2 linked regions of the Homo sapiens genome follow. The protein of the gene in region 1 purifies or fractionates together with the protein of each later gene. This does not show direct contact. Each region holds a gene or a part of one and is shown on either strand. Other genes may lie near its edges.

What was found.
Region 2: the proteins of AIFM2 (region 1) and SPECC1L purify together in Homo sapiens (affinity purification with mass spectrometry; one large-scale study listed by BioGRID and IntAct). This does not show direct contact.

Annotation. Positions count from the first base shown.
Region 1 is NC_000010.11:70,119,223-70,123,039, reverse strand, and holds part of AIFM2 (ferroptosis suppressor protein 1), read left to right. Parts: intron 1-1,828; coding exon 1,829-1,948; intron 1,949-2,440; coding exon 2,441-2,533; intron 2,534-3,817. UniProt on the Homo sapiens protein: A NAD(P)H-dependent oxidoreductase that acts as a key inhibitor of ferroptosis.
Region 2 is NC_000022.11:24,277,188-24,281,004, forward strand, and holds part of SPECC1L (cytospin-A), read left to right. Parts: intron 1-3,817. UniProt on the Homo sapiens protein: Involved in cytokinesis and spindle organization. May play a role in actin cytoskeleton organization and microtubule stabilization and hence required for proper cell adhesion and migration.

The sequences.
Region 1 (3,817 bases):
AATAAAAATAAAAAAAAGAGAATGCTGTCTGTGAGCCCCAAGCCCTGCCTGGTGCTGGGCAGATAGCGGATTCCTCATAAACAAAGGCTTGACCACAGCAACCACAAGAATATGGTGGCAGATATTTCTTGTGTAATTCCTGCATGCCAGGCCCTGTTTGTAGCCTTTACGTAAGTCTCATGAATGTTTACCGTGCCTCTATGGCGAAGGTGGTATAACTTCATTTTACAGAGAAGCTAAAGGGTTAAATGGCTTGCTTAAGATCCCACAGCTGGTAAGAGACTGAACTAGGATTTGAACCCATGCAATTTTAGCCCAGAGCCCATGCTCTAAAAGCCAGCGTCCCAGACAACTCCCAGGCCTGGCCAGCCCTCGGCTCTGTCTAGAACAAAAAGGCACACGCATGGTCCCACATCCCCCGGATCGGGACGTCACTGGGGCAGAGGTTTCCCTTCACTCATTTGTGTGTTCCCCCACCTCACATGTGCATCATGGAGCCTGGAACACACCTGCCATGACTTCAGCTCCATCGATAAGCTGCCACCAGCTCTGGATGAGTGTCATGTCCAGCCCAGCCCCATTTGGTGTTTGAAGCTAAGGGGGCGTTGACAAAAGGAAACACAATTCCTTTCCTTGATGAGTTGTGATTTCGTGTGACCCAGCCCTTCTTGAATTAATGGGGCCAGATAGTTTCCTGGTTGGAAAGATTACTGAGTGTCCCCTGGTCCTGCAGTCTCCAGCCATGCGTTTCAGAGCCCTGGAAGATTCCATGAGGGCATCTTGGAGGTTCAGGGGAAAGTAGGGGCTGAGTGGAGTCCAGGCCCTCCAGCCCCTCCCATTGGAGCAGCTCTGTTTTTGTCAACTTTATATATTTAGGCTCCAAACAAGATTTCCTTTTCTTTGTTTACAATTTTTTTAATTAAAAAAAAATTTTTTTAATTGTTTTTGAGATGGAGTTTCGCTCTTGTTGCCCAGGCTGGAGTGCAATGGCATGGTCTCGGGTCACCACAACCTCTGCCTCCCAGGTTCAAGCGATCCTCCTGCCCCAGCCTCCTGAGTAGTTGGGATTACAGGCGCATGGCACCACGCCCAGCTAATTTTTGTATTTTTAGTAGAGATGGGATTTTGCCATGTTGATCAGGTTGGTTTCAAACTCCTGACCTCAGGTGATCCGCCCGCCTTGGTCTCCCAAAGTGCTGGGATTACAGGTGTGAGCCACTGTGCCCGGCCTAAAATTTTTTTTATTTTTAATTTAAAAAAATTAAATTATTTTTTAATAAAATATTTAATAAAAATTAAATTATTTTATTATTTATTTTTAATTTAAAAATTAAATTAATATGGGGTCTTGGTATGTTGCTCAGTGCAGTGGCTGTTCACAGATGTGATGCCACTACTGATCAGTCTTTCTTTCTTTCCCTTTCTTTTCTTCCTGGCGGAGGCAGGAGGAGGGTTCTTCTAAAACACCCGGGAGGTTCTGAGCTAACTCCCGTGGGCAGTGTCCTATCCTGCAGCCCTGCCTCCTGCTTCCAGGCACCCCTCCCACTGCCATGCTGGGTGGCTCCAGTTGCCCCCACATTCTCCACGCGGAGGTAAACTCTACTTCCTTAGGTCTTTCCCCAGGTTCTAGTGCCATCCTTTGGGCTAACCAGTGTGGTGGTTTCACCCCCTCCCATGGGGGCTGCCTCGGGTGCCTAGAGGGGCCTCTTTGCCTGGTTTGTCCCGGCTGGCAGGCCGGGAGTAGGATGCAGAGGCCTAGGCCTGCCCTGCCCTGCCCTACCCTCATCTTTTTTTTTTTTTTTTTTTTTTTTTTTTTGGTTTCTCTCAGGCCCTGCCCTTCTCTCATCTTATCCTGGCCACGGGCAGCACTGGGCCCTTCCCGGGCAAGTTTAATGAGGTTTCCAGCCAGCAGGCCGCTATCCAGGCCTATGAGGACATGGTGAGGCAGGTGAGCTGTGCACTGAAGGCATGGGGCAGTGTGGGCAGATGGAAGGACAGCCTTGGGGATGCCTAGGCCTGCAGCTGGGAGGCCACGGGGTTACTCAGAGCTGCTGGCTGTAGCCATAGAGTTGGAGAGTCACTAGGAAGAGACTTTCCTGGGAAGAGACCTTGAACTTGCTGCTGGAGCCAGGATGTGAGCACCCTAAACCTGCTCATGTTGCCCTTGGTATGTCTCTGACTTTCCTCTCCTGGGGCTTTTCACGGGTCCCTTCCACTCCTGTTTTCATAAGGCTCTGTTTTGTAGAGCAGGCTTAGATCCACAATCTTCCACAGCAATTCTGCGAGGTGGGTGGGAGGAAGCACGTTTGGACTCAAAATGTGGAAAGGGTTCTCTGCCCTCCTTTGGCCCAGGGAGCCACACCACAGGCTGAACCAGCAGACAGAGGTGGATGTGTAGGTGTGTTTCATATGTCCCTGTTTCACATGTCCTCTTCTCCAGGTCCAGCGCTCACGGTTCATCGTGGTGGTGGGAGGAGGCTCGGCTGGAGTGGAGATGGCAGCAGAGATTAAAACAGAATATCCTGAGAAAGAGGTGAGCCAGGCTGCCTTGCCTTGGAGCTCTAAGTGGTTGGCTTTTTTCTGCATTATCTTAGGAACATCAGGAATTTGCTCAGGGCAGAGAAGTCTGGAGCTCTATTCACATAAACTGGGAGTGTGTATTTCTGTTTTGTGCCAAGGTGTGATTCTATAGGGGATTTTTCCTGCAGAGCTGGGATCCTGCTGCACCTGACCTTACGGAGCTGCTCAGGGTGTGTCCTTTCTCAAGGAAAGGTCCTGCCCTCTGCTCCAACTTGGAGGATCAAGCCCAGGGGCAATACCTTGCAAAAGCGGAACTTCTGTGTCACCTTCAGAATTCAGGCCTTTGTGATACAAATGTATATTTGATTACCTCTTGCTGGCAACCAGTATTTGATTACCTCTTGCTGGCAACCAGCTTGGACAAAGACACCTTCAGTTGTTGCTTTGGTCTCTGCCTGATATGGTAGCCCCTGCTCTGAGCAGCCCCATGGTGGTGGGGAGCCTGCAGCAGAGCCCTTTCTGCCCACGCTGGGCAATGACTGAACAGCACTGCCTTCTGCCCATGGGTGGGAACGGGGAGGGGACATCAGCCTGCCCTGTTGCTTTCTCATGCTCAAAAGACAGAGATCCTACCGGGCAACCTAGCGAGAAAGAGGAAATCCTGGCACCCTGTCCAGGCTTGGCAAGGGCTGAGTGAGAAACGTCCTTACAGGTCCTCTAGGCGAGAGCTTGCTTGCGGTTGAAGCCAGATCGGCTTCTGAGAGCCATGTGGGGCCTCTGAATGGATCTTTCTTCCTCAGGGAAAGGCAGGTTGGTTTTGAAAAGAAAAATCAATAGAGGATAACTTAATTATATGGCTGTTCTCTGACAAATTGTTGGAAATTATGATGAGTGATTGATCTAGTTACATTCATTCATTTTGATGTATGAGGGTTCTATAGGGAAAAACCAAACTGTTTTTCTCCCTACTCACTCCACACTTCTGGGATAAGATGTGTGGGTTTTTCCCCCACTGACCAATTCTCTGACACCAGCTGGGTGTCCTACGGTTCAATTCAATTCTGACACTACCTGGCGTTAGCGCAGACCCCACAGGTCAAGGGCTCAGTCCCACGATCCTGCCCCGACTTCAAACACCAGTTGCAAGTCCATAGGTCCCCAGCTTACCCACGCTTCTGTCCCACTTGGCTACAAGATAGAGATTCTCATGACTCTCTCCTTGGGTTAAATAATTTGCTAGAGCAGCTGATGGAAGCCAGGGAGACAGTTTACTTGCTGTTGCTGATTTATGACGAAG
Region 2 (3,817 bases), on another chromosome or scaffold:
CATGGCCCCTGGCTTTGGATTATTGTTTTGGTCTTTTATTTTTTGTCTTCTTCTACCTCAACACTTATCTTCCTCTCCCAGTCTCCGGTACCCTATCACCAAGGTTGTCATTAACCTTTCATATTATTCCTCATTATCCATGTATTCATTTGCAAATAAGCGTATATTAACAAAATCACAGGTTTATGGAGATATAATTCACATACCTTAAAATTCAGGCTTTTAAAGTGTACCTTTCATGTGGTTTTTGGTATATTCACAAAGTTATGCATTGATCACCACCATCTGATTCCATAACATGTTCAATACCTCAAAAAGAAGTCTGTACTCATTAGTAGTCATTTCACATTCACCACTCCCTCTGGCTCTGGGCAGTCACTGATCTTTGTGTCTCTATGGATTTGCCTAGTCTAGGTATTTTTATGTAAATGGCATCATACAACATGTGACCTTTTGTTTGGCTTTTTTCATTTAGCAAAATGTTATCAAGGTCTGTCCCTGTTGTAGCATGTATTAGCACTTCATTTCTTATATGCTGAATGATATACTTTATTTGTCCATCAGTTGTTCATGCTTTATTTGTCCATCAGTTGATGAACATTTGCGTTTTTGCCACTTTGGGCTATTAAGAATAATGCTACTGTGAACAAGTGTGTACAAGTTCCTCTACAAATTTTTGTGTGGACATATCCTTTCAGTTCTCTCAGGTGTATATCTGGGAATTGAATTGCTGGGTCGTGTAGTAGCTATGTTAAACACTTTGAGAAACTGCTATAATGTTCTCCAGAGCTGTACCATTTTAAATTCTGTGTATGAGGATTCCACGTTCTCCACTTCCTCACCAGTGTATGGATTTGGGGGTATACTTTTTAAAAAGTGGGATTAGGCTGGGCACAGTGGCTCACACCTGTAATCCCAACACTTCAGGAAGCTGAGGTGGGAGGATCACTTGAGCCTAGTAGTTTGAGACCAGCCTGGGCAACATAGGGAGACCCTGTCTCTACAAAAAATAATTTAAAATAAATTAGCTGGGCGTTGTGGCACACACCTGTAGTCCCAGCTACATGGGAGGCTGAGGTGGAAGGATTCCCTGAGCCCAGAAGTTTGAGGTTGCAGTGAGCCATGATGGCAGCACTATACTGTAGCCTGGGTGTCAGAGCAAGACTCCGTTTCAGGGAAGAAAAAAAAAAGTGGGATGATATTTTTGACACTTTTCTTCTTGTTTTCTTAATTTCATACTTCTGGAAATTCCATTAAATTAGCTGGTACCACTCTAACTCATTGTGTTTCATGGCTGCATAGTAATATTGCATAATATAAATATACCATTCATTCATCAAAGTTAGCAGATATTGACTGTTAGGTGCCAGGCACTGCTCTAAGCGTTAAAGAAAAACACACAAAAACTTTTGCATTCTTAGAGTTTATTTTCCAATGGAGGGGGTGGAGGGAGGTAAGAATTTAGGAAATAAATTAATTACATATATAGCATAGGGTTTCACCAGTGAGTGCAGCTTGAATCGTTGGCAGCTTTCTTAGTAGTATAAATACAGTACTAAAGATGAAATTACTCTAAATGGTGTTACTTAAATTACTGGAATAGGTATTACTATTAGTCACTTTGCAGGTGAAAGTGGAAACACCATCGTAAAATGTAAAATAGGAAACAGCTGGTTAATGTGGATCTGGAGTTTTTCTAGGACATAAACTGATGAGCCAGAAAAGTAAATGTGTCAGTCCTTGGTAGCACAGTTTGTACGTTTATAAATTTTATCCAAATCCTCTTAATCTAGTGATTAATAGACACTCTTCACAAAAGGATGAGGGAGGTATATGTATATGTGTTGAAAGGTTCCGAAGGATGCAACCGAGAGTACTTCGGGGGACGTGGCAAAACTTCCAGGCCCATTCAAGAGTCTTGTTTTCTCCCTGAGCTTTTATGTATTTATTATATTGCCCTATTAATTATTGAGATTGTGCCTTACAGTAAAAGCTGCTTTAAATTGTTGACGCTATAATTTAAAATAATCTGGGTCACCTAGAGTGGTTAAACCTGGAAGAAAAGGATATCCTTCCTGCCAGGGCAGATTGTATGTAGATATGCAACCTGGTTGCGCCTGTGCTGACCTCTACTCTGTTGGGCCTGGAAGTATGCAGTTCAACGTTTCTCTTCTGATTTTTAAAAAAAATTTGACTTTGTTTACTTTTTATTTTATTTTAATTTAGAGACAAGGTTTCACTATTTTGCACAGGCTGGTCTCAAATTCCTGGGCTCAAGTGATCCCCTTGCCTCGGCCTCCCAAATACTGGGATTACAGGCATGAGCCACTGCACCTGGCCTTAACTTTGAAATGAAGTTAGAAATGTACATTTTATTTTTTTAATTATTATTATTATTATTTATTATTTTAGAAACAGGTCTAGCTCTGTTGCCCAGGTTGTAGGGCAACAATGGTGCAATCACAGCTCACTGCAGCCTCCACCTCCTGGGCTCAAGTGATTTTCATGCCTCAGCCTTCCGAGTAGCTGGGATTACAGGCATGTGCCACCATGCCCGGCTAATTTTTTGTATTTTTAGTAGAGACCAGGTTTCACCATGTTGCTCAGGCTGGTCTTCTGACCTCAAGTGATCTGCCCGCCTCAGCCTCCCAAAGTGCTGGGATTATAGGCGTGAGACACCACGCCCAGGTGAACAGAATAGTTTTCCATTCACCACAGTTTGTGACAGTCTCTACATTGTGAAGTGACAAGTTCTCTTCTATTTTCCTTCTGCCCCTCATCACCTTTTTCTTCCTCATTTCTTTTTTGAATTTTGCTGTCTTGAATTGATGTCTAAAGGATGACATAGCAGACAAGGGGACTGACACATGAACTCTCATGAGTTACTGAGGAGTTTCTCAGTGCTCTGTCTGCATCATCTGCTCACTCTCTCCTTCCTAGGTGCTAGCCTGCCAACCTGCTTTGAGAAATTGGAAATGAATTGGGGGGTAATCAGCCTCCCCTTGTACATGTAGGGACCGCATCTCCAATGCCTTGCTTTACATAATGACGAATGGTGTTTTGCTTACCTACTTCCACACAAACTGCTGATATGGTTAGGATTTGGGAAAGGGGAAGAAGGGAATTTTGGGTTTTGAGGAGTAGCTGGGGCTTGAACAAAGAAGAGGTAGTAATGAACATTCCTGGGGTGAGGCAATTAGTTAGCTGAGGGAGAAGAAGGCATATAATAAATTAGGGATTGACAGACTGTCTGTAAAGGGCCAGACAGTAAATGTTTTAGTCATTGAAGACCTTAAGGTCTCTGTTGCATCTAATCAACTCCATCATTGTAGTGCAAAAGTAACCACAGCCACTACAGATGTGAATGAATGTGACTATGTTTCAATAACATTTTTTTTTTTTTTTTTTTTGAGACAGTGTCACTCTGTTGCTCAGGCTGGAGGGCAGCAGTATGACCACAGCTTATTACAGCCCTGACTTCCCAGGCTCAAGTGATCCTCCCACCTCAGCCTTCCAGGTAGCTGGGACTATAGGCATTTGCCACCGCCCCCCATTAGTTTTTGTATTTTTTTGTAGAGGCGGCGTTTCACCATGTTGGCCAGGCTGGTCTTGAACTCCTGAACTTCTGGGCTCACGCTCTCCACCCTACTCGGCCACCGAAAGTGTTGGGATTACAGGCATGAGCCAGTGTCCAGCCCAAAATAGTCTTTTGATTTTTTTTCCCCCAACCATTTAAAAATGCAAAACATTCTTAGTTTTTGGGCTGAAAAAAGACAAGTGATGGGTCAGATTTGGCCCCGGATTGTGGTTTGTTTAC